Linked DNA regions of Homo sapiens. The protein of the gene in region 4 binds, or shares a complex with, the protein of the main gene of each other region. Links are inferred from orthologs where the notes say so. Each region holds a gene or a part of one and is shown on either strand. Other genes may lie near its edges. The genes, in order: MAST2, SNTG1, PARD3 and PTEN. A codon is read from its position in the direction of its gene.

The links.
Region 1: the proteins of PTEN (region 4) and MAST2 are in contact, whole or in part, in an NMR structure (PDB 2KYL), measured with the Homo sapiens proteins. Residues at the interface, in NP_000305.3 of Homo sapiens: Pro391, Phe392, Asp393, Glu394, Asp395, Gln396, His397, Thr398, Gln399, Ile400, Thr401, Lys402, Val403; in NP_055927.2 of Homo sapiens: Lys1112 (codon at 1,738), Lys1113 (codon at 1,741), Tyr1114 (codon at 1,744), Gly1115 (codon at 1,747), Phe1116 (codon at 1,750), Thr1117 (codon at 1,753), Leu1118 (codon at 1,756), Arg1119 (codon at 1,759), Ala1120 (codon at 1,762), Ile1121 (codon at 1,765), Arg1122 (codon at 1,768), Val1123 (codon at 1,771), Tyr1124 (codon at 1,774), Met1136 (codon at 1,810), Trp1138 (codon at 1,816), Glu1141 (codon at 2,016), His1170 (codon at 2,103), Val1174 (codon at 2,115), Ile1177 (codon at 2,124), Leu1178 (codon at 2,127), Leu1191 (codon at 3,249).
Region 2: the proteins of PTEN (region 4) and SNTG1 are in contact, whole or in part, in a crystal structure (PDB 7PC7), measured with the Homo sapiens proteins. Residues at the interface, in NP_000305.3 of Homo sapiens: Asp395, Gln396, His397, Thr398, Gln399, Ile400, Thr401, Lys402, Val403; in NP_001274742.1 of Homo sapiens: Gly67, Phe68, Gly69, Leu70, Ser71, Ile72, Lys73, Gly74, Glu77, His78, Ser85, Lys86, Ile87, Ser88, His118, Val122, Leu125, Arg126.
Region 3: the proteins of PTEN (region 4) and PARD3 are in contact, whole or in part, in an NMR structure (PDB 2K20), measured with the Rattus norvegicus proteins. The link is inferred for Homo sapiens from one-to-one orthologs. Residues at the interface, in NP_113794.1 of Rattus norvegicus: Asp393, Glu394, Asp395, Ser398, Gln399, Ile400, Thr401, Lys402, Val403; in NP_112514.1 of Rattus norvegicus: Ala599, Gly600, Leu601, Gly602, Val603, Ser604, Val605, Lys606, Gly607, Asn608, Arg609, Ser610, Lys611, His614, Lys622, Ile625, Met659, Leu662, Arg663, Met666.

What each region holds. Positions count from the first base shown.
Region 1 is NC_000001.11:46,030,587-46,036,785, forward strand, and holds the end of MAST2 (microtubule-associated serine/threonine-protein kinase 2), read left to right. Parts: intron 1-20; coding exon 21-175; intron 176-420; coding exon 421-704; intron 705-804; coding exon 805-999; intron 1,000-1,591; coding exon 1,592-1,818; intron 1,819-2,009; coding exon 2,010-2,132; intron 2,133-3,215; coding exon 3,216-3,352; intron 3,353-3,486; coding exon 3,487-3,680; intron 3,681-3,951; coding exon 3,952-5,480; 3' UTR 5,481-5,536; downstream 5,537-6,199. UniProt on the Homo sapiens protein: Appears to link the dystrophin/utrophin network with microtubule filaments via the syntrophins. Phosphorylation of DMD or UTRN may modulate their affinities for associated proteins. Functions in a multi-protein complex in spermatid maturation.
Region 2 is NC_000008.11:50,698,299-50,705,486, reverse strand, and holds part of SNTG1 (gamma-1-syntrophin), read right to left. Parts: intron 914-7,188; exon of another isoform or gene 888-913; coding exon 735-887; intron 1-734. UniProt on the Homo sapiens protein: Adapter protein that binds to and probably organizes the subcellular localization of a variety of proteins. May link various receptors to the actin cytoskeleton and the dystrophin glycoprotein complex.
Region 3 is NC_000010.11:34,812,121-34,819,878, forward strand, and holds the start of PARD3 (partitioning defective 3 homolog), read right to left. Parts: upstream 3,177-7,758; 5' UTR 2,876-3,176; coding exon 2,756-2,875; intron 1-2,755. UniProt on the Homo sapiens protein: Adapter protein involved in asymmetrical cell division and cell polarization processes. Seems to play a central role in the formation of epithelial tight junctions. Targets the phosphatase PTEN to cell junctions.
Region 4 is NC_000010.11:87,858,600-87,866,748, forward strand, and holds the start of PTEN (phosphatidylinositol 3,4,5-trisphosphate 3-phosphatase and dual-specificity protein phosphatase PTEN), read left to right. Parts: upstream 1-5,055; 5' UTR 5,056-5,350; coding exon of another isoform or gene 5,351-5,504; 5' UTR 5,505-5,505; coding exon of another isoform or gene 5,506-5,870; coding exon 5,871-5,949; intron 5,950-8,149. Other genes in the region: KLLN (killin), read right to left, coding at 3,352-3,888; MLDHR (PTEN upstream open reading frame MP31), read left to right, coding at 4,960-5,055. UniProt on the Homo sapiens protein: Dual-specificity protein phosphatase, dephosphorylating tyrosine-, serine- and threonine-phosphorylated proteins.

The DNA.
Region 1 (6,199 bases), on a different chromosome or scaffold from region 4:
CGCATCCCCTGTGCCCACAGGTGTACAGCAGCATGGAGCGGCTCTCACTGCTCGAGGAGCGCCGGACACCACCCCCGACCAAGCGCAGCCTGAGTGAGGAGAAGGAGGACCATTCAGATGGCCTGGCAGGGCTCAAAGGCCGAGACCGGAGCTGGGTGATTGGCTCCCCTGAGATGTGAGCACCCAGAGTTCACCCAGGGTGGGCGACACAGCTATCCCTGCATTGTCACAGATCATGGGAGAGATTCCGATGCCAGGGAGGAGTGCAGGTGGCAGGGAGGGGGCATTCACAAGGGTGGCTCCTGGAGGAATGTCTGCGGAGGAAAGTTCTGTTACTATAACCCTTGTGTGCCCCTAAGGAGACCTGGCAGGAGGAGGGGGACCACCTGGGTCACTCACCCCAGGCCTTGTGTCTCATAGATTACGGAAGCGGCTGTCGGTGTCTGAGTCATCCCACACAGAGAGTGACTCAAGCCCTCCAATGACAGTGCGACGCCGCTGCTCAGGCCTCCTGGATGCGCCTCGGTTCCCGGAGGGCCCTGAGGAGGCCAGCAGCACCCTCAGGAGGCAACCACAGGAGGGTATATGGGTCCTGACACCCCCATCTGGAGAGGGGGTATCTGGGCCTGTCACTGAACACTCAGGGGAGCAGCGGCCAAAGCTGGATGAGGAAGCTGTTGGCCGGAGCAGTGGTTCCAGTCCAGGTATGGCCCAGTGGGCGGCCAAACGACCTAAGCTGGAGGATACTGCAGGGCAGGGAGGCTCAGCGGCATCGCGGGTCTCACTGCTTACTTGGGCCTACAGCTATGGAGACCCGAGGCCGTGGGACCTCACAGCTGGCTGAGGGAGCCACAGCCAAGGCCATCAGTGACCTGGCTGTGCGTAGGGCCCGCCACCGGCTGCTCTCTGGGGACTCAACAGAGAAGCGCACTGCTCGCCCTGTCAACAAAGTGATCAAGTCCGCCTCAGCCACAGCCCTCTCACTCCTCATTCCTTCGGGTGAGGCCCCTGGGGAGCTGGGATAAAACTCACAGGAAGGGCCTTGTAATCTCTAGGCCTTGGGAGGGTTCTGCACGTGGCAGGTGTGTGTGTGTGTGTTAAGCACAGATCTGACTGTGGTCTCTGAAGGTGTGTATTGGTGTCTGGGGTTGTGTATACATGTGCCAGAAAGCAGGACAGCACCATGTCACAAGTGCAGGCTTTGGGGTAGAGAGCTCACACTCAAATCCTGGCTCCATCACTAACAGGCTCTTGACCTTGAGCAAGTTGCTTAACTTCTCTAAGCCTCAAGTTTCTTATCCAAAAATGTGGATATAATAGAGGCCAGCTGATAGGTTGTGACATTTAAATATATATGACAAGCTTATATAGTCCCTGATACACACATAAATGCTAGCTGCCATTTCTCATCACCACCACCGTCTCTTGGGGTCTGGACACGGGAGAGGGCTTCACAGGTCAGGGGCTGTGGGGAAAATGGACCTAGGCTCAGGCTCTGTCTGTGACTAGAGTTGTGCTGACATCAACAGACTGGACCAGGGGCCAGGCCAAAGCCCTCTGACCCACTAAGTCCTGGCTTCTCCTTCTCCAGAACACCACACCTGCTCCCCGTTGGCCAGCCCCATGTCCCCACATTCTCAGTCGTCCAACCCATCATCCCGGGACTCTTCTCCAAGCAGGGACTTCTTGCCAGCCCTTGGCAGCATGAGGCCTCCCATCATCATCCACCGAGCTGGCAAGAAGTATGGCTTCACCCTGCGGGCCATTCGCGTCTACATGGGTGACTCCGATGTCTACACCGTGCACCATATGGTGTGGGTATGTCTGACCATCCAGACCTGCTGTCTCCCTGCTTCATCATCCTTCCAGCTTCCCCTTTGTGGAGCCCATCTGTCCCTGCTCGGGGGTCAAAGGGTGGTGGTGAAGGGGCTCACAGCTTAATGTCCAGAACCAGGCCCCATACTTCGTGTTCAGGCTCCAGTCTGAGTACTGTTCTCTTCCTGGCACAGCACGTGGAGGATGGAGGTCCGGCCAGTGAGGCAGGGCTTCGTCAAGGTGACCTCATCACCCATGTCAATGGGGAACCTGTGCATGGCCTGGTGCACACGGAGGTGGTAGAGCTGATCCTGAAGGTTAGTGCTGGGCGTGCTGCCTGCATGGTCCCTGAATGACCTCAGCCTGTGAGTCTGTGATGGCAGTTAGGGGAGTGGGTGAGTTGGGTGCACACACATCTACACCGAGTATGGATGTAGGTACACACAGGCCGGGCGCGGTGGCTCATGCCTGTAAATCCCAACACTTTAGGAGGCTGAGGCAGGTGGATCACTTGAGACCAGAAGTTTGAGACCAGCCTAGCCAACATGGTGAAACCCTGCCTCTACTAAAAATACAAAAAAAAAAAAAAAAAAATGCCTGGGTGTGGTGGCTCACGCCTGTAATCCCAGCACTTTGGGAGGCCGAGGCGGGTGGATCACCTGTGGTCAGGAGTTTGAGACCAGCCTGCCCAGCATGGCAAAACTCTACTAAAAATAACAAAAATTAGCCAAGCGTGGTGGTAGGCACTTGTAATCCCGGCTACTCGGGAGGCTGAGGAAGGAGAATTGCTTGAACCTGGAAGGCAGTTTGCAGTGAGCTGAGGTCATACCACTGCACTCCAGCTTGGGAGACACAGCAAGACTCTGTTTCCAAAAAAAAAAAAAAAAATTAGCCGAGTGTGGTAGCACATGCCTGTAATCCCAGCTACTTGGGAGGCTGAGGCAGGAGAAGTGCTTGAACCCAGGAGGCAGAGGTTGCAGTGAGCTGAGATCGCACCACTGCACTCCAGCCTGGGTGACAGAGTGAGACTCTGTCTTAAAAAAAAAAAAAAAAGATGTAGGTACACACAGAACTTGAATGTGGCACAACAGAGAGTTTTCTCCACAAGGCAGTACCCTCCCTGACTAAGGCCCAGGGATCCTTCTGAGCTGTGGGTAGGGCTGCAGAATGGGACGGATTAGCCTGTTTTCTACCTTCTTACCCCAAACCACTCTGGGGCTCCAATGGGAGCCATTTCCTCATCTGTAAAAACAATAATATAGGCCTGTGGTTCAGATGTGTTGGTGCAGGGACAAAAAGCTGGAGCTGTGGTATAGCCATGCCAGAAGGGAAGGATTGGGGGAGGGGAGGGGCAAGAATATGGCTCCAGCTTAGCCTAGGCCTCATGCTCTGCTCCCCAGAGTGGAAACAAGGTGGCCATTTCAACAACTCCCCTGGAGAACACATCCATTAAAGTGGGGCCAGCTCGGAAGGGCAGCTACAAGGCCAAGATGGCCCGAAGGAGCAAGAGGAGCCGCGGCAAGGATGGGCAAGAAAGGTGAGCCAGGCGCAGTGAAGAGGGTTTTCTCTGAGCCACATGAGTGCTGGTACGTGGTGGGTGCCTTGGCCCTGGGGGTCCAGTGTGTGCTGTGCTCACTGCACCGACTCAGCCTTTGACCCTTATCCCCGCAGCAGAAAAAGGAGCTCCCTGTTCCGCAAGATCACCAAGCAAGCATCCCTGCTCCACACCAGCCGCAGCCTTTCTTCCCTTAACCGCTCCTTGTCATCAGGGGAGAGTGGGCCAGGCTCTCCCACACACAGCCACAGCCTTTCCCCCCGATCTCCCACTCAAGGCTACCGGGTGACCCCCGATGCTGTGCATTCAGGTACGAAGGGCTCCCTGCAGATCAGTGACAACCCCTGGGAAATAGGAAAGTTCCTAGGCCCTGTGTGCTTCTGACAGATCCCACTCTGAGTCTCTCATTTAGCCCACCCCCTGAAAGATCCTGTAGTCTTGGGGAGGAATTAATTGATGGGGAAGGGGGTAGCTTGGTTTCTGGGACATAACAGGGCTAAGCCCTGTCTTGCCCTTGAGTCACTTCTAACAGCTAACACTGCTCTGCTTTTGTCTGTCTGTCTGTCTGTCTCTGTACAAAGTGGGAGGGAATTCATCACAGAGCAGCTCCCCCAGCTCCAGCGTGCCCAGTTCCCCAGCCGGCTCTGGGCACACACGGCCCAGCTCCCTCCACGGTCTGGCACCCAAGCTCCAACGCCAGTACCGCTCTCCACGGCGCAAGTCAGCAGGCAGCATCCCACTGTCACCACTGGCCCACACCCCTTCTCCCCCACCCCCAACAGCTTCACCTCAGCGGTCCCCATCGCCCCTGTCTGGCCATGTAGCCCAGGCCTTTCCCACAAAGCTTCACTTGTCACCTCCCCTGGGCAGGCAACTCTCACGGCCCAAGAGTGCGGAGCCACCCCGTTCACCACTACTCAAGAGGGTGCAGTCGGCTGAGAAACTGGCAGCAGCACTTGCCGCCTCTGAGAAGAAGCTAGCCACTTCTCGCAAGCACAGCCTTGACCTGCCCCACTCTGAACTAAAGAAGGAACTGCCGCCCAGGGAAGTGAGCCCTCTGGAGGTAGTTGGAGCCAGGAGTGTGCTGTCTGGCAAGGGGGCCCTGCCAGGGAAGGGGGTGCTGCAGCCTGCTCCCTCACGGGCCCTAGGCACCCTCCGGCAGGACCGAGCCGAACGACGGGAGTCGCTGCAGAAGCAAGAAGCCATTCGTGAGGTGGACTCCTCAGAGGACGACACCGAGGAAGGGCCTGAGAACAGCCAGGGTGCACAGGAGCTGAGCTTGGCACCTCACCCAGAAGTGAGCCAGAGTGTGGCCCCTAAAGGAGCAGGAGAGAGTGGGGAAGAGGATCCTTTCCCGTCCAGAGACCCTAGGAGCCTGGGCCCAATGGTCCCAAGCCTATTGACAGGGATCACACTGGGGCCTCCCAGAATGGAAAGTCCCAGTGGTCCCCACAGGAGGCTCGGGAGCCCACAAGCCATTGAGGAGGCTGCCAGCTCCTCCTCAGCAGGCCCCAACCTAGGTCAGTCTGGAGCCACAGACCCCATCCCTCCTGAAGGTTGCTGGAAGGCCCAGCACCTCCACACCCAGGCACTAACAGCACTTTCTCCCAGCACTTCGGGACTCACCCCCACCAGCAGTTGCTCTCCTCCCAGCTCCACCTCTGGGAAGCTGAGCATGTGGTCCTGGAAATCCCTTATTGAGGGCCCAGACAGGGCATCCCCAAGCAGAAAGGCAACCATGGCAGGTGGGCTAGCCAACCTCCAGGATTTGGAAAACACAACTCCAGCCCAGCCTAAGAACCTGTCTCCCAGGGAGCAGGGGAAGACACAGCCACCTAGTGCCCCCAGACTGGCCCATCCATCTTATGAGGATCCCAGCCAGGGCTGGCTATGGGAGTCTGAGTGTGCACAAGCAGTGAAAGAGGATCCAGCCCTGAGCATCACCCAAGTGCCTGATGCCTCAGGTGACAGAAGGCAGGACGTTCCATGCCGAGGCTGCCCCCTCACCCAGAAGTCTGAGCCCAGCCTCAGGAGGGGCCAAGAACCAGGGGGCCATCAAAAGCATCGGGATTTGGCATTGGTTCCAGATGAGCTTTTAAAGCAAACATAGCAGTTGTTTGCCATTTCTTGCACTCAGACCTGTGTAATATATGCTCCTGGAAACCATCTTTATGTCTTTTGCTTGCTTGTTTTCCTTCGGTCAACCCACATGTAACTAGGTCCTGTGTTGCTGCTGGGAATATAGTGGTGAATAAAACAGTTTCCACCACCAGGGGAGGGCCACCTAACCCAGCTTGACTTCCCAAAGGCTTTGACATTTGAGCTCAAACATGAAGAATAGATGATAGGTAGTAGTTTGCTGGGTGTGGAAGAGTGGAGGTTGGCATAAGAAAGGCTGTCCAGGCAACGTTTAGCACATGCAGTATACCTGGCATAGTCAAGGAACCAAAGATAATTCAAAGTAGAAACGGGTCTGGCAAGTGAGGCAAGGGCCATGTCTAATGGTCTTCCAGGAGATTTGACTTCGTGAAGGTGATGGGGAACCAGAAAATACCATGTAGCAACTAAAATTCCTTCATAGATAAGGGCACTAAGACTTTGATGCCCATGGTAATACAGTAGCTTGGGTAGAACGGGGGTTAGAACGTAGGTCTCCCTTGGACTCCGGAACTCACATCTCTCCTAACTAGGATTGCCTCAGCCAGGAAATGAGGAGGGGAAGAAGTGAGAGAAGGCAAAGAGTTTAACTTTGGGTGCGTTTGAGATAAAAGAGAAGACAGAAGCAGCAACCAGCAGAGTCATAAAGTCTATGGGAGGAGTTTTAAAATG
Region 2 (7,188 bases), on a different chromosome or scaffold from region 4:
TATTTTAAAATCTATTTCCTATATTGTATTTCTAATCAGATGTATTACTTTTATGATTTTTATTGTTGTATGTGTTAATGACTTCATGTAAAAATGTAATTGCTTTTCATGAGTAGTATGAATACAATTGATTAGTTTGTGTTTTCTTATCTGTAAAAAAACCAGAAAAGTACATTATATTGTGTTCAAAAGTGAGAAGAAGAGTTGTTTGAACAGGATAGTTGTAGAAGGAGTATTGGCAAGCATTAGGCAGGGTGGACTGGAAATCAGGGACATGTTCCTGGATGATATGACCTTTGATAAAAAGTCTCAAAAACTCTGTGTGGCTTTGAAGGATGGAGGCAAAGGGAAAGAGCATTGTGAGTAAATGACGCCAACAGGCTGGAAATTAGGAGGTCATATTTGGAGAACAGGAAGTGACCTTGTCAACAATTCATTAAATCAGAGTATTTTCTATATTAGATTTAAGTCAGAGTAATGTCTAATTAAAATTAGAAATATATTTTTAATTAGTAGTAGGAAATAGCCTGGAAAGATCAAGTCGTGGAAAAATTAAAATTTTATTCAGAGCTGTATTACTAGTCACTAAACAAAAATGGCTAATTATAGAATGTATATGAGGTCAAGATTCCCAGAACTGTATTTTTACACTACTTTGGAATGATATTAGAACTCTAGGGAAGTGGTCATGCATCTGAGGGAGCCACACATCCTGCAGTCCCACAGACTCTCACCTGTATCCGTTCTACTTCTAGAAAGGTTGCTGTCTGGAAGGCTCTTTCCCACTGGGCGAGGTCACTTTCCAGCTCCACTGAGAAGTACAGGTCCTCCCCAGACTCAGACTGCACGGTGAAGCACTGTTTCCGTCGGTCCAGCAGGTCACTGTCCTGGTGAAAACCTGGAGTTACACAGGCTGGCACACATCACTTCACATTGCTAACCTGGCCATTCCTGACTGGACCAAGGTGCAGAAGCCACAGGTAAAAAGACAACACTCTGCGAATTCACCAAGTCTTCATTAGACATTATACCAGAACTCCGGGCTTCAAAGCCCCAACACATGACTTCTCTGTCTTTACACTGAAGCATGTCCATAAAATAGAAGTTAGGGTTTCTGGCTTCATCTCTTACTAACAATATAACCACCAAAGCATTTAACATACAAGACTTGGTTTATTACTCTACAAAGGGGTGACACACTATCTCTTCCCTTCCTTACATAACTGTTATGATGTTGAAATTAAATAATGCTTGTGAACATGTTTGTAAATTTTAAGGAACTTTATAAGCAAACCAAAATATTCTTCTCCATGAGAAATGAAAAAGAAAATGAGTCTAATTTGTCTACAGCAATAATATTGCTTAAAAAAAAACGCATTATTTACCTTACTTGTGTAACTGTATTTCATTGTATCAAAAAAACGACTTTGATGCTGGCAATTTCTTGGTCTTACCAGAAGTTTTCAACTGAAGTGTTCACAAATTTACATATATTCCAATTTAAGAGACATTAACATGAGAAAAAAAAGTGAAGCAAATAATTTATGAAACAGAGTAACCCAATGCAACATGTCAGATATAGCATTTTAAATACAGTCATGTGCCGCATAAGGATGTTTGGGTTAATGATGAACTGCATATGCGACGGTGATCCTATAAGGTTATAAGGGAGCTGAAAAATTCCTATCCCCTAGCAATGTCATAGCCGTTGTAATGTCATAGAGCAATGCATTACTCTTGTGTTTGTGGTCATGCTGGTGTAAACAAACCTGCTGTGCTGACAGCTGTGTAAGTCTAGCACATACGATTATGATGTATGCTACATAATAATAATGATGATAAGAAAGAATATGTTACTGGTTTATGTATTTACTGTATTATAGTAATACAGTAAATATTACTGTATTTACTGTACTCCTATTTTTTTAGTGTACTCCTTCTATTTATTAAAAATATAGTTAACTATAAAACAGGCTCAAGCAGTTCCTTCAGAAGGTATCCAGAAGACGGCATCATTATCATAAGAGATGACAGCTCCATGCGTGTTATTGCCCCTGAAGACCTTCCAGTGGGACAAGATGTGATGATGGAACTCATCCTGACTATATGCAGGCCAAGGTTAATGTGTGTGTTTCTGTCTTATTTTTTATAAAAATTTTAAAAAGCCAAAAATAAAAAAGTAATTTGTAAATTTAAAAGTAGAAAAAAAATGTAGAGAATAAGGATATAGAATAATTTTGTACAGCTACATAATGTGTTTGTGTTTTAAGCTAAGCACTTCTACAAAAAAGGCCAAAGTTGAAAAAATTAACTTTGTAAAGTAAAAAATGTTACAGTAAGCTAAGCTTAGTTTATTATTGCAGAAAAAAATACTTCTTATAAATGTAGTGTAGTCTAAGTGCTCAGTATTTATAAAGTCTATAGTGCTGTATAGTAACATCCTAGGCCTTCACATTTACTCATCACTCATTCATTGACTCACCCAGAGCAACTACCATTCTGCAAACTCCATTCATGGTAAGTGCCCTGTATCTGTGTATCATTTTTTTTTTAAATCTTTTAGACTGTACTTTTACTTTACTTTTTCTATGTGTAGATGTGTTTAAACAACTACTTACCATTATGTTACTTTTGCCTACAGTATTCAATACAGTCATATGCTATACAGGTGTGTAACCTAGGAGAAATAGGCTGTACTGTATAACCTCGCTGTGCAGTACGTTATGCTGTCTCAGGTTGTGCAAGCAAATTCTGTGGTGTTTGTACAACAGTGGAACCATCTAACTGAGAGGCATTTCCTGAAATATATCTCAGTTATTAAATGACTGTATATATGCTATATCTATGCAGTGTACTGAAAATTGTCAAAGGGTTAATCACTGGTATCTGTAATCATTTCTCATAAGGAGGGATGTAAGTGTATCATTATTAAACACCCAAAATGTTAGATGGAATTCTCTGCTTTGGCAAATGTTTAAAAAATAATAACTATTTTCATTGTTTCCTGCTTGCATTCTTATAATTGCTGGAAGAGAGCTAATGGAAGGCATTTACTTCCAGGGTTGTAGAATTTAGCTCTGACCCTTGCTGCCAGTAGATGCTCAGAAAGCTAAAAGGATGATAAATGCTGTGCTTATTGATTTTCCTACTCTGTCTGAAGGGAGAAAAAAATGAAAACATAATATGTTTGAGAGTACAATCTAATGATAAATTATAAATACTTTTTAGTAGTTTTGGGGTTATAATATCTATGGAGGGAACAATGAGAGATAATAACTACACAAGTAAATATATTAGTACAAATTATTGTAAATGCCATTATAAAAAAAATAAGAGGCTGGGCGCAGTGGCTCATGTCAGTAATCCCAGCAATTTGGGAGGCCGAGGTGGGCAGATCACTTGAGGTTGGGGAGTTCCAGACCAGACTGTCCCACATGGTGAAACCCCATTTCTAATAAAAATACAAAAATTAGCCGGACATGGTGGTGCATCCCTGTAATTCCAGCTACGTGGGAGTCTGAGGCAGGAGAATCACTTGAACCTAGGATGAGGAGGTTGCAGTGAGCCAAGACTGTGCCACTGCATTCCAGCGTGGGCAACCAGAGGGAAACTCCATCTCAAAAAGAGGAAGAAGAAGAGGGAGAAGGAGGAGGAGGAGGAGGAGGAGAAGAAGAAGAAGAAGAAGAGGAGGAGGAGGAGGAAGAGGAAGAGAAAGAAGAAGAAGAAGAAGGAGAAGAAGGAGAAGAAAAAGAAAAAGAAGAAGAAAAAGAGGAAGATGAAGAGGAAGAGGAAGGCAAAGAAGAAGAAGAAGAAGGAAGAAGAAGAAGAGGAAGAAAAAGAGGAGGAAGAAGAAGAGGAAGAGGAACACGAAGAAGAAGAAGAAGAAGAAGAAGAAGAAGAGGAAGAAAAAGGTATTATATCACAATAGATTGAAAAGCTAGAGAAATGTTCTCTAGGAAGTAAATTTTAAACAGTGGCTGAAAACGAGTAGAATATCAAAGATAAAGTATAGAAAAAGGGTGTTCTTTCCAGAGAGTGGATGGGACTGGCTGGGGCCAAGTCAGGCATTTCAGAAATTCAAAGAAAAGGAGGCAGAAACATTGAGAGCTGAAGCTAGGGAAGGACATGGGATGATTGATCTGGTTATAAATTTTGGACTTGAACACAGTATAATGACAAGCTACTATAGCAAAAATTTTAGTATGCCCTCTCTTTATACTGCAGATATTTCAACATCTACCTTAGCTTTTTAAATTGATAAATTGGCAAAAATCTATAACTAAACGTTGCAGTTTCCAGAAACCTTGCCAATTTTATGGTTTATTAAATTGCCCTTCATTTTCCTTATAATAAAAAATATTATCTAATGTCATTATTAGTCAGAAAATTTTGTTATTTTTTCCTTTTCATAAATCACATGTAGCAATAGGATCTTAAAATGGACTTCATGTAAGATTTTCTATTCTCTTAGCAAAACTTTACTCCTTTGCTCTTTTAAAACTCAATTTAAGATCTTCTGTTATATTACCCAAGTCGTGACTCTCTCTCAGACAAAGCATCCTCTAATCAACTCTGCAAATATAGTTTCAGCATCTCTGAAAACTTCTTGCCATTTCCTGTTGTTATTTATAATATACTTCTCATGAACTGACTCACACTGCAAATGGCATCTGAGCACCCAGGTCTCATTTTAGTGAGGGAGAGAAATATGTTAAAATAACGAGCATATGACAGTGCTATAGAGGTAACATGCTAAGGAAGCAGAATAAGGAACGATAAATCATCTTGAGGGAAAGTAGGAGGGGGAAAGTTGTATTGTAGGGAGAGACTGTAGTACCATCAAGGACTTAAAGACAAATGCAAGAGCAACCTGGTGCAAGCCTGAAAAAGACCAGGTGATCCTGCTAAGAAATTCATAGAATGCACCTGCCAGGAAAAGATATTGGAGAGTTAAGTGAGAAGGGGGCAGCATAGACTCTAAGCTTTAGATGGCTAAGAGTGGATGGGTGGGAGGAGGAGAAACTTTGGAAAAAGCAGGGGTTCCTTTATCAGAAATTTAGTGAAAAGTGACTATAGCTCAATCATTTTAAAGATCTACTTTCAACATAATCATCTAAAATCATTGACACTAGATTTCTTTTACTAGAGTTTCTACCTTTGCTGCCTATAACATTTCAAAAGATTGTGTTCCTTTACGGTTGCAGTCATTATCAAGTTATATGCAAGTAATAATATATATATAACTAACTGAAAAACTAAATAAGATACTCTTAGAGACTGGCATTGACTAGAAGTATTAGTATAATAAGGAGTATTTACACGATTATCCACATAGGTTTAAATAAGAATGTATATATTCCTCTTTCTCACCCTCATTCTCTCTCTAACACACATGCAGGAGCTGTTATAAGGTGATAAGAACAAAAGTTCTAGCTTCAGAATTCTGTCTTGATTTGAATCTCCTCTCTTTTATTTATTAATAGGTAATCCTTGTCAAGTTGATTACCATATATATAGCTTCCTTCACTCATCACTAAAGTGGAAATAATTAATTGATCTGATGATTAAATAAGATACTATATTTAATTCTTTGCTTAGTATCTAATACTTGGAAGTACTTAATGTTGGAAATTTTTGTTGTCAGTATTGATTCAATAAAATAAATACAGATAAATATTCGTATCATTTCCTAACTTGCCTTCTATGGCTTGCTCTCTGCATGCATTTCTCTTTTGTCATAGTTTGACTTATGCCCCAGTAGAAAGAATAGCCTCCAGAATACTTTTTTGCCAACTGGAAAGTATCATTTAATAATAGTAATGATAATAATAATAGCTAAACATATCAAGAACTCATCAGTTGCATTTTTCTCAATTTTCTCACTTCTCCAGAAGTATCTTCTATTTTGTTAGATTTGTTCCAAGTTCTCTCAGATTTATAAAGCAATATTACAAAGAAACAACAGGTTTTTTTTTCAAGATGGCTGACTAGATGCTTTTCCAGGGTACTTCATCCACTTAGAAGAATGACAATGGTGTGTAGACAATCACACTTTGCACATATGAAAGCAAAATCAAATATTGGGACCCCAAACTCACTATACCAAAGGGCTAAGTTTAGGTAGTTAGTCATGAAAAAACTGCCTTCCTTTCATTCCCAAAAAGCTGTAATTTCATGTTTACTTTATGTAAAATGTAGCTTTTCTGCTCATTAGTAAGATCCTCACAAGAATGTGACCACTTATCTCATTGCCTACCCAGACTTTTTTTCTTTCTTCCTCTTCCTGCTTGCTTTTTCCCTGTTAAATATTGAAGTTCCCAGAACCCTTTTTAAAAAAAAGCACAGGGTACAGATCTCCTTGTGATTTGTGTTTCTTTTTCCCAGGCATGTTCTCAACCTTGGCAAAATAAATCTCTAATTGATTAAGATCCACCTCAGTAACTTTTTTGTTTACAAACATATTATCCAAGAGAGAACACAGGAGTTCAACAGTAACACACGAAGAAACTCCAAAATCTGACCAGAAAAAGAAGAACAGTCAGCCTGTGTGGCTGTGGGACTGGCTGAAAATGAGAAGAGAGTAAATTCCCAATATGGGAGAGGGTGAGTGAGTATCTTTCTGTGGTCCAATTTCCCACTATAGAATCATATAATTCAGGCCACGGTAGAGCACCATGACTTTTCTAAGCCCTAGATCTACCTTGGGATGTGGCTGGGAGACTGTAAGAAGTACCTGCTCTGGGAAGTGTCCCATGCACTTCCCGAGACCTTGGAACCTACAACAGAACACCATTCTTGATCCTAGCTCTTTGCAAGCTGTGCACAGTCCTGAAAACTAGCAGCAGTGGCAGCCTTTGTCATTAAAGAGGCTCTAACAGTATCCTGGGGATCTGGTGCTCAAGCAGGGAAGAGGTTCCCACAGCCAGAACCGAGAATCAAGTATGGCATGGGCTCCAGCCATTGGCATGCTGGAACCAGGCTCACCCCATCTTTCACTTCACCCCCTTCCCCCACCAGTACAGGAGGGGATTTGTTTGGGAGGCATAGTGTTGGGCTGTGCAGTGACTCCTAAGGCCTGGGGCAGCTTGTGTTGACAACTAGAAGTAAACTGCACTAACTAAGTGAACAGCCAAACCTACTGACAAAGTTGAGAAGGTGGTGAGCCCCACCAAAAATGGGGGCATGAGA
Region 3 (7,758 bases), about 53 Mb from region 4:
TTGATTTGTGTAATCTGAAGAGAAAACAGCTCACATGCAATGCCAGAAAATTAGCCCCACCACACCAGAAAATGTTTACTGCAGAGAAAGCCTTGGTGATTTGAGAGTTGGGACCTTTCTCTTTTCCTTTTTATTTTTTATTTTTGGCTTGGTTGGTTATTATCCAAAGCCATAAACATGATCTGCCCACACTTTTCCCCACCAGATGGGAGCTCATCAAGCCACATGTCACCTAGCAACCTAAACACCACTCCACAACTATCCAGCCACCCAATTCTTCACACAGAATTTCTCTTGTTCTATTAGGCAATACGGATAAGGAACAGATAGAGAATAAAAGTTAAAACAGTGTTAAATACATATTAACACTTCCTCATCACTTAATATAGAATGGGAAAAGTAGTAAGAAAGACTAAAAATTAATCTTAATCATTGTCTAGCAATTTCAGAAGAAAAACGAGAAAAAGGAGACCTAGAAGACACTCCAGCTCTGGCAACATTTAAGGGTCAACAATCTTGGGATCCAATGACTGAACTTGGTATACTGCAAAGCCCCCGTTAAAATTCACCTACAGAACTCTAAGTTGTACTTAAAGAGCATGTAAGTGTTGGAACCCCTGACCCATCTCTGACCCTCCCTCTCATCTCCAACTCCCATGTCACTATCACCCTCCCTTCCTTCAGCTCATAGGCCCCTTTTCTCTTTGTGACACCTTCCCAGACACCCTTAAAAAACTGCACTCCCTTTTCTACGCCCTGTGAAACAACCACTGCTAATCGTTAATAAGGACCAGGTCCGTGACCAAGGCCCTGCACTCTAGCCACCCAGCATCCCAGAGGCCACCTCTTCTCCCCATGTCATCACCAGCTCCTTCACCTGGAGGACCCCGCAGCCTCTTGCTCAGCTTCTCACAGCCAGTGGGTCCCTTAGATGTCCAGCACCCAGAACAGTGCCATGGACACAGTCAAAGCTTCAGAATTTCTGTGGAACGAATGCCTGGAACAACTACATTTGAACTACTGCCAAACAGGCAGTTCAGCCTATGTCTATTTTGTGCAGGATGAAACATGGGACACAGTAGGTAAAACAATTTTAATCACATAAAATTAGTAAAGTGAAAGAAAATGTTGACCACCCTCTTCCTATTCAGGAGCCTAGACGTACTGCAGAGTGCATATTACTTTATTTCTCTTTCCTTGCACAATTTGTTTTGTTGGTTTCCAGAGTGCCTGAACAATTTGAGTACTCTTTTGGAACATTTAAAGCATAAACTGTCACACATAAACAACACTTAAAAATGCTAAATGTCCATTTAGATGGTTTTCTTTCCCTTTGTCAGCTTTGCAAGATAAACAGGTGCCCAATTCCCACTAATTTTATTTGATTTTCAATAAAAGAGTTCAACTGTAAGGAACATAACAGAGCTACTAAAGCCAACGTCTTCCATCCTTGTGTCGGGTCTCCAAACGTCCCCCAAAATTATCTTTAAAAGGCCAAATTTATGCTATTTTTTCCAATATATACTAAAAGCAAAACAAAAGTCTAAAAAGCTTTTACTTCTTAATTTCTGAGAGAACTGAAGATGCCACCGGAGTACCCTGTGTACGCTCAATAGGGCTGACCAAGCCACTTTCCAACGTCATTTGCAGCCCCCAAGCCCACAGGGGCCAGGCCACTGTCGGGAACAAATGGGAAATACTGCACCCAAACGAATGCGCTCCCCACCAAAGAGGACTCTACTACAAAGGAAATATATCCCCGGGTGCTTGGGAGAAACTTCAGCGTGGGCTGTTGTCAAACACAGACACAGTCGGTAAAACAATTTAACAAAACGCCTTTTCACTTCTGACACACAGTAGAGGAATGCTGTGAAGTGGAGACAATGTTATCAGTCCACCAGGAAAAAGGGAAATCCACTCAACTCCCAAGTCAGGCCCGGCCCCGCAGCCCAGCCACATGGAACCAGCCCGGGATAGGTAGGAGCTGAGGTCCTCGCAGGAAAACTTTTCATTCCGCGACTCTTCCAAGGTTGTGCTTTCCAGAGCCCAGCAAGTGGGATCAGCTCAGTAAATGCTCGCAAGCGAGTGCCAAGTGCCAGCGGTGGCCCTCCCGGGAACGCCTCCCCGACCCCAAGCCGGCGACTCCCCAAACCCTGCAGCCCCCGGACGCGACGGGCCGCCCCTGCCGGCCCCTACCAGCAGGGGACATGGAGGAAAAGCCCCCCGCCGCTGTTCCGCCCCCGCCCGAGTAAGGGAGAGGAGGCAGAAGGCTCGCAACCCGCCTCTGTCGGAAGGGCAGTCACGAAACTCTCCTCACACCAAAAGTTCCCAGTCCCCGGCCTGTGCCCCCGGGGCCTGGGAGCCGGGAAAGGCCTGGGGCTGGATTTCCCGGCCTGCGCCCCCCGCGCGCTGGCTCGGGGCTTGGCTGGGTCTGCAGACTCCGGGGAGGCGCCCAGGGCCGGCCTATGCGCCGCTGCCCGGCTCGCCCCGCGCTACCGAGGCCGGAGCTCCCGGGCGGAGGGTGAGGGCGGGGGCCGCGGGACCCGGCTGGGTGTCCCAGAGGCTGCGCCCCGGCCCGCGCAGAGAACTTTGGCGCCCGCAGTCCGGGGCGGGGGGCGCCCGCGAGGCCCGACCGGCCGCACTTTCCCTTTCCCCGCCTCCCTGCGCCTCTCCTCCCCCTTCCAGGAAGCGCCATATTGATCCCGGCGCCGTCCCCGCCGCCGCCCCCTCCCCGCCCGCGCCCCCGGCCCCTCACCTTGGCGATGGCCTTCCGGTAGCGGGTCACCGCCTGCTGGATGAGGCTGAAAACTTTCATGTGGCCGTCCCCGCACGGCACGACCACCCGGGTCCGTCCGAAGCACACGGTCACTTTCATGCCGCCGCCGCCGCGGGCGGGCCCGCGCCCCTCGCCGAGCGCAGCCGGAGCAGCCGAGGCCGGGACCGAGGACGCTGGGCGCGGAGGAGCCGCTGGGGACTCGGGCGCGCGGGCGGCTAGGGGCGCGGGCAGGCGGCGGCGACGCCGGGGGGCCGCTCAGCTCGCATGCCCGGCCCGGCCGCCCTCGCCTCGCCTCGCTTCGCCCGGGGCTTGCCTCGCCTCTCCCCGCCGCGGCGCCCGCAGCCTCCGGCCACCTGTTCGGCGTCGCGGCGCGCTCGCCGGCGGCTGCCCGGGGCTGTGTGGCGCTGGCGCTCGCTCGGGGCCGCTGGGGGAGGGGACGGCGGGAGGGGAGGGGAGGGGAGGGGAGGGGAGGGGGAGGAGCAGGGCAGGGCACACAACACCGCGCACATGCGGCAGGGGGAGGCGCGGCCGGCTACCCGCGCGGGGCGGAGCGCAGGACCGCAGCTCGCGCCCCCGCCACCGCCCTCGGGGGCCGACCTCCTTCCCTCCTTCCCTCCCTCCCTCCCTCCCTCCGGGGGCGCGGGACCCCTCGCCCCAGTGCCAGCACGGGCAGGCGGCCGTCTGCCCCCACCAGCCCTGGCCCAGGCGCCCCCCAGCCCCCTTCACCCCGCCCGCCCAGCACCCTGCAGGGCTGCGTCGCCCCTCCTCGGGGACGCCCCTTCCACGCCTCCAGAAGTCTCCACGGAGCCCCCCTTCCCCTTTCTTTGTCACTTTTAATCCCATTCCTCGAACTGGAGGGTTTTGGGTGCAGGCGCTCCCGGGGAAAGCAGTTTGTGCTCAGTGCGGTGAGTCCCCTCCTCACCGCCCCGGAGGCTCCAGCCCGAGCCTCTCCGCCCGCGGGGACTCGAGCCTGCAGCTTGCTCGGCTGGGTTTCTGCCCTGCCCGCTCCCTAGCTCTGCTGCAGGGCCGGCAGCGGCAGTTCTGCCTGAAACGCAAGAATTAATAGTCTGCTCTGGGGAGACAGTGGGGAAGCCGTGAGCGACCGGGCCTTTTCCAGAGGCCACTATTTACCTTGAAGTTTCCTGTTGACCCTCTGCTGACCCACCCGCTTAAATAGATTAGAACTTAAACATCGCAATTCTGATACATTTATTTCTTTGAAGTTCTGCAGCATAAGGAATCCTAACGCGAATCCGTGAACAGTCTATTCCGACGGCGCAGAGAAATCTCACGCGGGGATCCCCACGATGTGCCGGCGCTTAACGCAGACGCCCGAACCCAGGGGAAGGCTGCGACTCCGCGATGAGTGACATGCGGGCTTGAGACGTTCTAAAGGAACGTGGACCGAGTTAGGGAACGTAACTGAAGCTCATTTTGTCTTAGTTATGGACTATGAGTCCTTAATAAATGTATGTCATTATGTTTAAAGAATGACAAATGTCTGCAAAGAGTGGTCCCTGTCCCAAGCCCTTTCCAGACTATGTGAAATTCTTTTTTGCCAGTTGTTTCCAAGACACGTGAAAGCAATCAAGCTCCCCTGGGTTGGCGCAGAACTTGAGCACTTAAGAGCTGGAAGAGCTGGCGATCGACCATCCATCCCACTCCACCTCCAATCTTAAAACAAGGAAACAAGACACGAGGTTCGTCCGCTTGCCACACTCCCTGCGCTTTGCAGCACCGCAGCTGCCCCAGCATAGTGCAGTTTCTCCTAGGAAACATTGCCCTTCCTCTCCTCTCCCAGCCCTGGACCACCACTTTCCACCACCTGTCCCAGCAAATCAGTGCAGTGGTGTTAGCCCCATCTTACTCCAGGACATTGACCCAGGGCCAAAGTCACTTGCCCAAGGCGGCAGAGAAAGCTCAAGGCAGACCCAGAAATAGTCTAGGTTTCCCTCCTTCCACTCAGCCATGGGAAAGGCTCCTCCTACTGCTGTTTGGCTGCAGCACTAGACATTTCTAGCCAGTAATTAAGTTTGTGACAACGATGACAACAACTGTTGATGTGGGTTTTTTGCTTCTTACATAGATACTTGGATCCACAACAACAATTACTGATAATTATAGGTGTTGTTTCTGTTTTCATGCATTGGGAGAGTATACTACTAGTTTAGAATGTATACTACTTTATTTTATTTTGTGTTTTTTACATTTATTTATGTATTTATTTTTATTTATTTATTTATTTATTTATTTTGAGACCAAGTCTCGCTCTGTTGCGCAGGCTGGAGCGCAGTGGCGTGATTTCGGCTCAGTGCAACCTCCGCCTTCTGGATTCAAATGATTCTCCTGCCTCCGCCTCCCGAGTAGCTGGGATTATAGGTGCCCGCCACCACGCCCAGCTAATTATTGTATTTTCAGTTAGAGACAGGGTCTCACCATGCTGGCCAGGCTGGTCAATCCGCCCGCCTCAGCCTCCCAAAGTGCTGGGATTGCAGCGTGAGCCACCGCGCGGCAGAGAATGTATACTAGTTTTGATGCTACACTAGTTCAGAGGGGTATACTAGCTTGAGTATAATAAATTAGAGTGGGGCTTTCTCAAAATAATTCTAATCGAAAGTCATTTTTCAGTAATAACCAGAGTACATAGGACATCACACTGATCTAGGTTCAGATCCATATTTGGCCACTTACTAGTGCCTTAGACACAACAGTCACTCTTTCTCCAGCCCGTTTTATCAGCTGAAAAGTAGAGAAGTAGAGCTTATCATATCCATATCCATCTCATAGATCTCATAGGTTATGAGTCAGTCTTTCTTTTTTTTTGAGATAGAGTCTTGCTCTGTTGTTCAGGCTAAAGGGCAATGGCACAATCTTAGCTCACTGCTGCCTCAGACTCCCAGGCTCAAGCAATCCTTCCTCAGCCTCTAGAGCAGCTAAGACTACAGACAAATACCACTATGCCCAGCTAATTTTTAAATTGTTTGTAGAGATAAGGTCTCACTATGTGGCCCAGGCTGGTCTTGAACTCCTGTCCTCAAGCGATTCTCCCGCTTCAGCCTCCCATAGTGCTGGGATTACAGGTGTGAGCCACGGCACCTGGTCATAAGTTATGAATGTTAAATAAAATAATGTATCAGAAAACAGTACGGCTGGGTATGGTGGCTCACGCCTGTAATCCCAGCATTTTGGGAGGCCGAAGTGGGCAGATACCTGAGCTCGGGAGTTCGAGACCAGCCTGACCAACATGGAGAAACCCCGTCTCTACTAAAAATACAAAATTAGCCGGGCATGGTGGCACATGCCTGTAATCCCAGCTACTCGGGAGGCTGAAGCAGGAGAATCGCTTGAACCCAGGAGGCCGAGGTTGCGGTGAGCCGAGGGCAACAAGAATGAAACTCTGTCTCAAAAGAAAAAAAAAAAAACAGTACATGCTGCCACGCTGCCACATGGGAATGTATAGCGTAGTACAGTCCAGTTACCGTAATGAAGGCAGAGGGTAACAAAGTCCAGCACAGGATAGCAAATGATGACAGTGGAGGAGGCAGGAGAGATGAGGAGGACAGGAGAAGACCAAGGCTCAAAGAAATGACTAGCCAGGTGATACAACTTTCCAGTGACTGGGCTAGGACTACAACCAAAAACTCCAGCTCTGACTCTCAGGCCTGCACTCAATTCACTTAAATTTGATTCCACATGCAGTTAGTAAAGACCTTCCTTGCAGGAAGCACTGGCTAAATATTACAGAATTATAAAGGTGAGTAAAAGAAGGACAATCTAGAGGTCAGAATAAGATAGCTATTCCAATAACTATAATTCAACACATTAAATATTCAGTGCCAGCAAAGTGTTTATGGCGGTACTAGAGAAGGGGGAAGCTTTCATAACAGAGATGACATCAGGATATGTGGATACCATTTTATGTACATCAATTCCTTTAACTATTCAATACCTAATAAGGATATGGATGTTTTTAAAAAATATGATCCAGAGGATTAATAACACTGATTCCACCAACCAGATAAAGCCTTACAGCTGTATTTAAATCTACCTAGTTTATCTAGATGCAGTGATTCCGTTTATATTAATAATGGATGAAAAACTAGTACTGCATAATTCTAGATGCCAGAGCCTTTGGTGTCTTGAGTCAAAATTCATGAAAATTTTTTTGTAATTCATAAAATTTCATGACACATTGGGAATACATATCCAAGTCCTCACCTGCCCAAATAGAGCCCCCTTCAAAATATTCCAGGGTTGCCCTCAACCAGTCCATCAGCAACCATCACCAAAGTATCCACTGCCTTTTTTTTTTTTTTTTTTTTTTTTGAGATGCAGTCTTGCTGTTGCCTAGGCTGGAGTGCAGTAGCACGATCTTGGCTCACTGCAACCTCTGCCTTCCGGGTTCAAGGGATTCTCCCACCTCAGCCTCCCAAGTAGCTGGGATTACAGGCGTGCACCACCACGCCCGGCTAATTTTTATACTTTATAGTAGAGACAGGGTCTCACCATGTTGGCCAAGCTGGTCTCAAACTCCTGACCTCAAATGATCCACCCACCTCAGCCTCCCAAAGTGCTGGGATTACAGGTGTGAGCCACCATGCCTGGCCCTTCTCTGCATTTTCGTTCTCCTGTTCTGGTTCCCAGACACTGCTGGAAGGTATGTCAGCACTGCCCTGCTGAGAGAGCCCACTTTGCAAAAACTTGAGTCCAGGCTGAGATCACCACTTCTAGAAGCCCCGGTGTCACCCAGCCTCAGAATGCCAGAAAAGGCCCATCCCTGCAGAAAGTAAGCACCCATGTTTGCCATGACCCACCACTCAGAGCCCAAGTCCCCAGTCAAATATCTCCCTCCTTCCCAGGTCCCAGAGCTGAAGAATGAGGTAGCTTGTTGGTGAAGTCCATGAAAGTTGGCAGAACAAGGTGGAGGCTGGCAGAGCAGGTGATATTAACACTCAACTCTGTTAAAGACAAATGTGCAGCAG
Region 4 (8,149 bases):
GCACTCCAGCCTGAGGAACAGAGGGAGACTCCGTCTCAAAAAAAAAAAAAAAAAAAAAAAAAAAAAAAATTTCTGCCTACTCTATGAAGCACCTGGTAGGTGTCCCAATATTTTCTGGTATATGGGAATTACCTTTTTCTATTATTGGAAGGTCTAAAAAGCAAACAATGTGCTCCATATGGCTAGAGTTAGTATTAAGGGGACCAAGTAGAATAATTGGTAGCTAGTGTTAGCCTGGAGACTAACATAGTCAAAGCTGTCTTGTCATGTTATGTCTTTTTTATTTGTATTGCTCCACGGTCCAAGACAAAATTTCTGAACGCCACTTGGACACAGTGAGTACCTGGTCTGCTCTATTGTTCTCAGGAGCAACCAACTCAACCCTTATTTCTCTGAGAATGATGATTTCATACAGCACATCTCTCTACCAAGATGTGAAAGATGACACCATGGCATCTGAAATAGCTTCAGGAGAGATTTGGGACATGGGAAGCTTGTAGACAATAATGGAAAATTCTCTTTTAGAATATAGTTACTTGTATGACCCACAGTAGCGCCTTTTGGAGAATGTCTTAAAATTATCTTTATTGAAAGAACAATAATGTTTGTTATTAGGATAAATGAAATAAGGGGAAAACCTCAGACCCTTGGAACAATGGGTTTACATTCAATCCAATGATTATTATGTTTTTATATTCTGTATTATTTAGAAAACAGTAGTTAAACAGACAGAAATACAGAAGATTGTTTAAAAATTAAAGCTATTGAGTTAGATCCCTTTTTGAAAGGTCAGCGTATGGGAGATGAGAAAGGCACTATAGAGATCAGAGTGTTTACACAAAAGACATCTTAGCAGATGACCTACAAAGAGCACATCAAGTATTTATATCATCCACATCAAGTTGCTGGTCATTTCGCTTATCAAAGAAAATAAGAAAGAAATTTTCTTTCGACATTATTTTGGTGTAGTAACAATAGAGTTTTGGAATCAGCTGTTAGAAGCGATAATTAAAGCTAGTTTACCATGCTTACTAATCAATCTACATAGTCACCCTGAAGCTTTATATAATTGTCCCTTTGTTACAAGCTTCTACTTCTCCCTATGGTATTCTGGTTCTGAATCCAGACAGGTAAAGAACTAAGTATGGCCGGGCGCGGTGGCTCACGCCTGTAATCCCAGCACTTTGGGAGGCCGTGGCGGGCAGATCACGAGGTCAGGAGATCGAGACCATCCTGACCAACATGGTGAAACCCTGTCTTTACTAAACTACAAAAAATTAGCCCGGCATGATGGTGTGCGCCTGTAGTCCCAGCTACTCGGGAGGCTGAGGCAGGGGAATTGCTTGAACCTGGGAGGCAGAGGTTGCAGTGAACCGAGATCATGCCACTGCACTCCAGCCTGTGAGACTCCGTCTCAAAAAAAAAAAAAAAAAAAGAAAAAAAAAAAAAGAACTGAAGTGCTTGGAGACCAGTGTATTGTAATATCTATACAGCCAAGCAGGTATTTTCAACTGAACTTTAAAAAAGTACTATTTTTGAAACTTTCTTTAGTTTAGATAGGGCCAGCCATTTGGGTAGAAAGGAAAAGAAAAACAAAAAATTGGAAAAGGATGCATCAGTATTTCTTTCAGAAACAACTTAACACTAGGAACAGAAGGAGGATTTTATTCACCAACTCCTAATAACCACCTGATGTTGCTGTTGGGCTGGCCAAATATCTGCCAACATTGATGATCCTTTCATTCACCACTAGAGAGAAGTAGAGGGACCTGATGTTTAGAGAAGCAGTAAAACCCATTTCCCATTTTCTTTCTTCAGCCGGATGGAAGTACTTGGAGGCTGGTCTCATATTCTAGCACTTTAGTGCTGGTGATGCAGATTATCTCTGCTCCAGAGTAACTCTGTGCCATGGAATCCAAGAGGATTCTGTCGCACCAGGACAGGAATGCACCCTTGTTTCATTTGCTTCCATGAAAGCAGATTTCAGAGATTCTCAGATGCTATGAGACTAATTGTCACTTAGGGTAGGCTCCAGGGGAGGGACAGAGAAGGGCAGTGCTAATAACAGGGACTCTGGAGACAAGATCAGCAATCTAAGAAACAAATGTGAGACATTTTACCCCTCCCTAATCTACTCCCCTTTTAAAAGTTCATCTTCATTTTCCCTTTTTCTACCACGCAGTAATTGATAATTAAACACAGCTCTGGTTTTTACCATGCAATCTAGTAGAACACCTAGACATCAGGAACTCCTTATCTTTGGTTATTTATACAATAATGAAATCTGTAGTTCACGCTAGGCTGTGTGGACAGTATCTGCATCTCTGGAAATCAACTGGAGGCCTTTCTCTTACTCTTTTCCGGTTGCTTTCCATTTCCTTTTCCACTGTGGTCCTTGCCTTTCCCAAGCTGACCAGAACTATGCACAAAACCAGTCTTCAATAAATATCAACACTGAAGCTTCAGCAGGTTGTTAACTCCTGCACAGCTATCTTAAATGCTGTATATAAGTGCAAAGTTTTATGGAGCCTCAGAGGTCTCTAAGAACACTGTAAATATCCCAGGTTTAATTAGTAGTCCCGGAGTTAGGTAATGGCCTGTGGCTTTCTGCGCTAGGTCTCTTGAGGTTTCTAGTCTTCAGAGGTTGCCTGCAACTATGATGTGCACATATACAGTACTCTTTCTCAAATACAGCATAAACCCTCTTTAGACTTTGCTAGGCACTTACAATTATTGAACACACATGCAGATTGATTCTCATTCTCTCAAAGTTTGAAAAACAACTCAGTGCTTCAACCTAGGTCTCGTTAGATATTTTTTGACTCAAATTGTCGTCTGTAGTTCTACTTCCTAAGGGAAATGAAAAAACAATAAATTCCCAGACTGGTGTTGATGCTCATTCTCTTTAAGCGGGTCGACTACTTGCTTTGTAGATCCTTGACGGGTGGGGTGCGGGGTAGGAGTGCGATCCAACTCTCAGCATTTCCGAATCAGCTCTCTCACGGTGACAGGTCAGCCCAATCGGGGCTGTAAACAGACTTGACAGGTTTGTTCTGGGCTGACGGCCATTGACTAGGTTCTCAGACCAGATAAGTCACTTGGCTGAGTCCACAGTAGGTGGGGCGCGCTCACCAGCTCAGGGGTAGTGACTGGACGTTTGTTGCAACATCGGAGAATGCACGCTCTGGGCTGCAGCAGGAGATACCCTCAAGCACAGAACCAAAAGGGTTCACCCTAAGCGGCAGGGCATCAGCGATGGAGAGGCCCGAGAGCCCTAGCGCCCAGCTCCTTTTCCCACGTTTGGGAAGGCGCAGAATAGGTCGATGTAGAGCAAGGAGTGAGTCTCAGGTCTCAGTCCTTTGGCTTGCTCTTAGGGTAGCAGGCGAGGAGTGGCACCAGTTTGGGGACTCTCTCCCCGCGTTCTGTAAGAATCGGCGGCAGCCAGCAGGCGGGGAGGCGGGGGCACGTGTTTGGATGTGGGTGCTTGTGTAACCAGTTCCCCAAGCGCCAGCCCCGACAGCGCTCCTTCGGGAGGCTGGTCCGAGCCCCTGTTTCCGCCGCGGCGCAGGAAGGGTTGGGGTTCCGCTGCCTGCACCAGGCAAGAGCACCCCGAGCAAAGGAAGAAGACGACTTGCCTCCGGAGCTATCACTGGGGAGTGGGAATTTGGAAAGTTCCCCAACTAGGGACACACGTGACCTCCTTCGGAAAGTAGTTCCGACTGTGGCCCGTGTATCCTTCCACCTCCTTTTGAACCCTCCTAGGTCTCCTCGCCCCGCCCACTCGCTGGGCTGCAGCTTCCTACCGTTCCGTACTTTCCACTCAACCCGGTAACCCCAAACGTGCACGGTCCGGCCGGGGCGCGCGGAGCCTGGCCCCGGGCGATCCATCCTGCCGGGTTTTCACGGCGGCCAAGGGGGGGCGGGGCTAGGTGGTCTCTGAGAACCGAGCTTGACTCCGACGCCGCGAACCGACCTGGAGCCCGAGGGGAAAGATGCTCGACTCTCTTGGGGGCACCGGAGCGGGCGCAGGAGAGGCCTGCGGGGTGCGTCCCACTCACAGGGATCCTCTTTCAGTTCATTTAGATAGGTGCCCTTTGGGCCCTTGAAATTCAACGGCTATGTGTTCACGTTCAGCACGCTCGGCTGAGAGCTTTCATTTTTAGGGCAAACGAGCCGAGTTACCGGGGAAGCGAGAGGTGGGGCGCTGCAAGGGAGCCGGATGAGGTGATACACGCTGGCGACACAATAGCAGGTTGCTCTTTGTGCTAAGACTGACACCATGAGGACACAGATTTGGGGGAAGGGGGAATCTCTAGGCAAAGGCTGTTACAGTCAAATCTCTGCGAACGATTGTGATCCGACAGCGGTGCAAAAGGAAAGAGCGAATGCAGTCCACGCCGCGGAAATCTAGGGGTAGAGGCAAGGGGGGAGGGTATTCCCCTTGCAGGGACCGTCCCTGCATTTCCCTCTACACTGAGCAGCGTGGTCACCTGGTCCTTTTCACCTGTGCACAGGTAACCTCAGACTCGAGTCAGTGACACTGCTCAACGCACCCATCTCAGCTTTCATCATCAGTCCTCCACCCCCGCCCCACAACAGCCTACCCTGCCTCCGGCTGGGTTTCTGGGCAGAGGCCGAGGCTTAGCTCGTTATCCTCGCCTCGCGTTGCTGCAAAAGCCGCAGCAAGTGCAGCTGCAGGCTGGCGGCTGGGAACCGGCCCGAGCAAGCCCCAGGCAGCTACACTGGGCATGCTCAGTAGAGCCTGCGGCTTGGGGACTCTGCGCTCGCACCCAGAGCTACCGCTCTGCCCCCTCCTACCGCCCCCTGCCCTGCCCTGCCCTCCCCTCGCCCGGCGCGGTCCCGTCCGCCTCTCGCTCGCCTCCCGCCTCCCCTCGGTCTTCCGAGGCGCCCGGGCTCCCGGCGCGGCGGCGGAGGGGGCGGGCAGGCCGGCGGGCGGTGATGTGGCGGGACTCTTTATGCGCTGCGGCAGGATACGCGCTCGGCGCTGGGACGCGACTGCGCTCAGTTCTCTCCTCTCGGAAGCTGCAGCCATGATGGAAGTTTGAGAGTTGAGCCGCTGTGAGGCGAGGCCGGGCTCAGGCGAGGGAGATGAGAGACGGCGGCGGCCGCGGCCCGGAGCCCCTCTCAGCGCCTGTGAGCAGCCGCGGGGGCAGCGCCCTCGGGGAGCCGGCCGGCCTGCGGCGGCGGCAGCGGCGGCGTTTCTCGCCTCCTCTTCGTCTTTTCTAACCGTGCAGCCTCTTCCTCGGCTTCTCCTGAAAGGGAAGGTGGAAGCCGTGGGCTCGGGCGGGAGCCGGCTGAGGCGCGGCGGCGGCGGCGGCACCTCCCGCTCCTGGAGCGGGGGGGAGAAGCGGCGGCGGCGGCGGCCGCGGCGGCTGCAGCTCCAGGGAGGGGGTCTGAGTCGCCTGTCACCATTTCCAGGGCTGGGAACGCCGGAGAGTTGGTCTCTCCCCTTCTACTGCCTCCAACACGGCGGCGGCGGCGGCTGGCACATCCAGGGACCCGGGCCGGTTTTAAACCTCCCGTGCGCCGCCGCCGCACCCCCCGTGGCCCGGGCTCCGGAGGCCGCCGGCGGAGGCAGCCGTTCGGAGGATTATTCGTCTTCTCCCCATTCCGCTGCCGCCGCTGCCAGGCCTCTGGCTGCTGAGGAGAAGCAGGCCCAGTCGCTGCAACCATCCAGCAGCCGCCGCAGCAGCCATTACCCGGCTGCGGTCCAGAGCCAAGCGGCGGCAGAGCGAGGGGCATCAGCTACCGCCAAGTCCAGAGCCATTTCCATCCTGCAGAAGAAGCCCCGCCACCAGCAGCTTCTGCCATCTCTCTCCTCCTTTTTCTTCAGCCACAGGCTCCCAGACATGACAGCCATCATCAAAGAGATCGTTAGCAGAAACAAAAGGAGATATCAAGAGGATGGATTCGACTTAGACTTGACCTGTATCCATTTCTGCGGCTGCTCCTCTTTACCTTTCTGTCACTCTCTTAGAACGTGGGAGTAGACGGATGCGAAAATGTCCGTAGTTTGGGTGACTATAACATTTAACCCTGGTCAGGTTGCTAGGTCATATATTTTGTGTTTCCTTTCTGTGTATTCAACCTAGGGTGTGTTTGGCTAGACGGAACTCTTGCCTGGTTGCAAGTGTCAAGCCACCGATTGCTTTCTTAGGCTATCTATATGGTCTCTTCCTGAGGGCTATTGTCCGTTAATACAGAATACAGTACACTGTTAGTGGATTAGCGAGCTCGGTAATCCGGTCTCCTAAATGAACAAAAAAGTAGACGCTTTTTGAGGTTGAGCATATTTCGATTAAATCTTGGCTTAGGCCCTAGATCAAGGGTTTAGATCAGAATAAAATGAAAATTAGTGTTGCACGTACGCATATTGCATCAGAATCTTGCAGTGATTGTTTTAGTTTCCTGAGTTGCATTGATAGATTCTTTTAAAATATGACTGATTTGCATAACTTTAGAAGCAGAATCATTTTCAGTATATATGGTGCACATTGAGGGCAAAAAGTAGTTTTGTTAATGTTTAAACTTAAGTTACCTACAACTTTGAACTGTATGTAGAAGTTTTGTAGTTTGAAGTCAATAGTGCCATAATATACCTTATAAGGCGTTCTTACTAGATCTTTGTTATATTTACCTTTTTCTCTCCCTATGGGGTGATGTAGGATAGTGCTTGAAATTTGCACTTCAGTAGCATTTAATGTTCAGTGCTCTTGTCATAAACATAGAATGGATATTGAGTAGTTTCTGATCCCAGATGGTAATGTGTAGGTTCAAGGGTATTGTGTGTAGCAAGTGAAGATTGCAGAAATAAAACTTCAGTTCATGCTTGAAATTTAAGTATTGTTGTGATGCCAGAATTGCTGCTCACCGTTTTTAGGTTTCAGGTCCTCTGACACCTTTTGGTATCGTTAATTTTACTGATTTGTGTAGAATGTCAGTTGTATTTTACCAGCTAATATCTAGAAATGCTGGCAAGAGGGGTTTACTCCAGCTTTAGATTGTAGGTATGTTAGCTTTTTTCATACAGTGTATTAAATTTACTGAGTCAGCTTGCTGAATAAGACAGAAGCCCAAGAATTTTAACAGTGTGTAGCTTTAGTTGTCTAAAAGTTAGGCCTTCGGGCTTCAAAAGTTAGTGGTCATCGAAAAGCATTAATCTTTGCAGTTTCAGGTACAACACATTGGTTTTGATTAGGGATGGGGATGGGGCCCTCTTTTTGCAGAATGGGGAAAGTATTGACAGGAATTGAGAGCTATTGGTAGGCCAGTGTATAAGGTATGTGAAAACAGAATTAAGTTATTGGTCTGAAGTGACTGAAGCATTTAGGCTCTATCAAGGCCTAAAATTTGGTAATATGAGTTTGGTAATGCGAATTGTGGCAGTGGACAATATTTAGTTAAAATTATGTAATTGCATAAGTACTAGCACAGTATTTTTAATAAAAGTTATTTCTTAGCAAATGTCAGTTGCATTTTGTCTAAAGGTAGAGTGACACTACAGTGTCTATATGTCCTGCTAAAAATTGTGGGGAATATTTTTTTTTAAGACAGCGTTTATATCGGGAGAGGTTTTATTCCGTTGGATTATGTTAGCTGCATATAAATGTGCACAGTTAATTTTGCCCAAGTTTTTGTTTTGAAATGAATGTAAAACTTACTGAAGAAGTAGCTTCCCAAAATTTAGTTTTCTGTTAAGCCAAAAATATTATTTTAAAAGAGTATTTGCAAATTTTGAAGTTGACATTAATTGAGAATGTTACTAAGGCTAAACTGGACCCGCTTGCCCAGAAGATAATTATGGAAAAATTCTTTTGTGACTTCCAAAGCAGTCTACTATTAGCATGAATTACTGACAGTCATCCAAATATATAGGAACAAAAAATTAAATGTTTATGTAACTTTGAAAAAAAAGCCTTTGAAGAAAATAATTGAATGCTGTCTGGGAGACAGATTTCTTTCAGCACTTAAAGTACATAACACACTACTTTTACTTTTCCCACTTGATTTTAAATTATCAGGGTTATTAAGACCTTAAAATTATTTTACCAGGTTTTTACATGTGAGCTGTGACATGACTGGCATTTTCTTTGATTTCAGCGTATGTTGGTCTCTACACATGAAATTT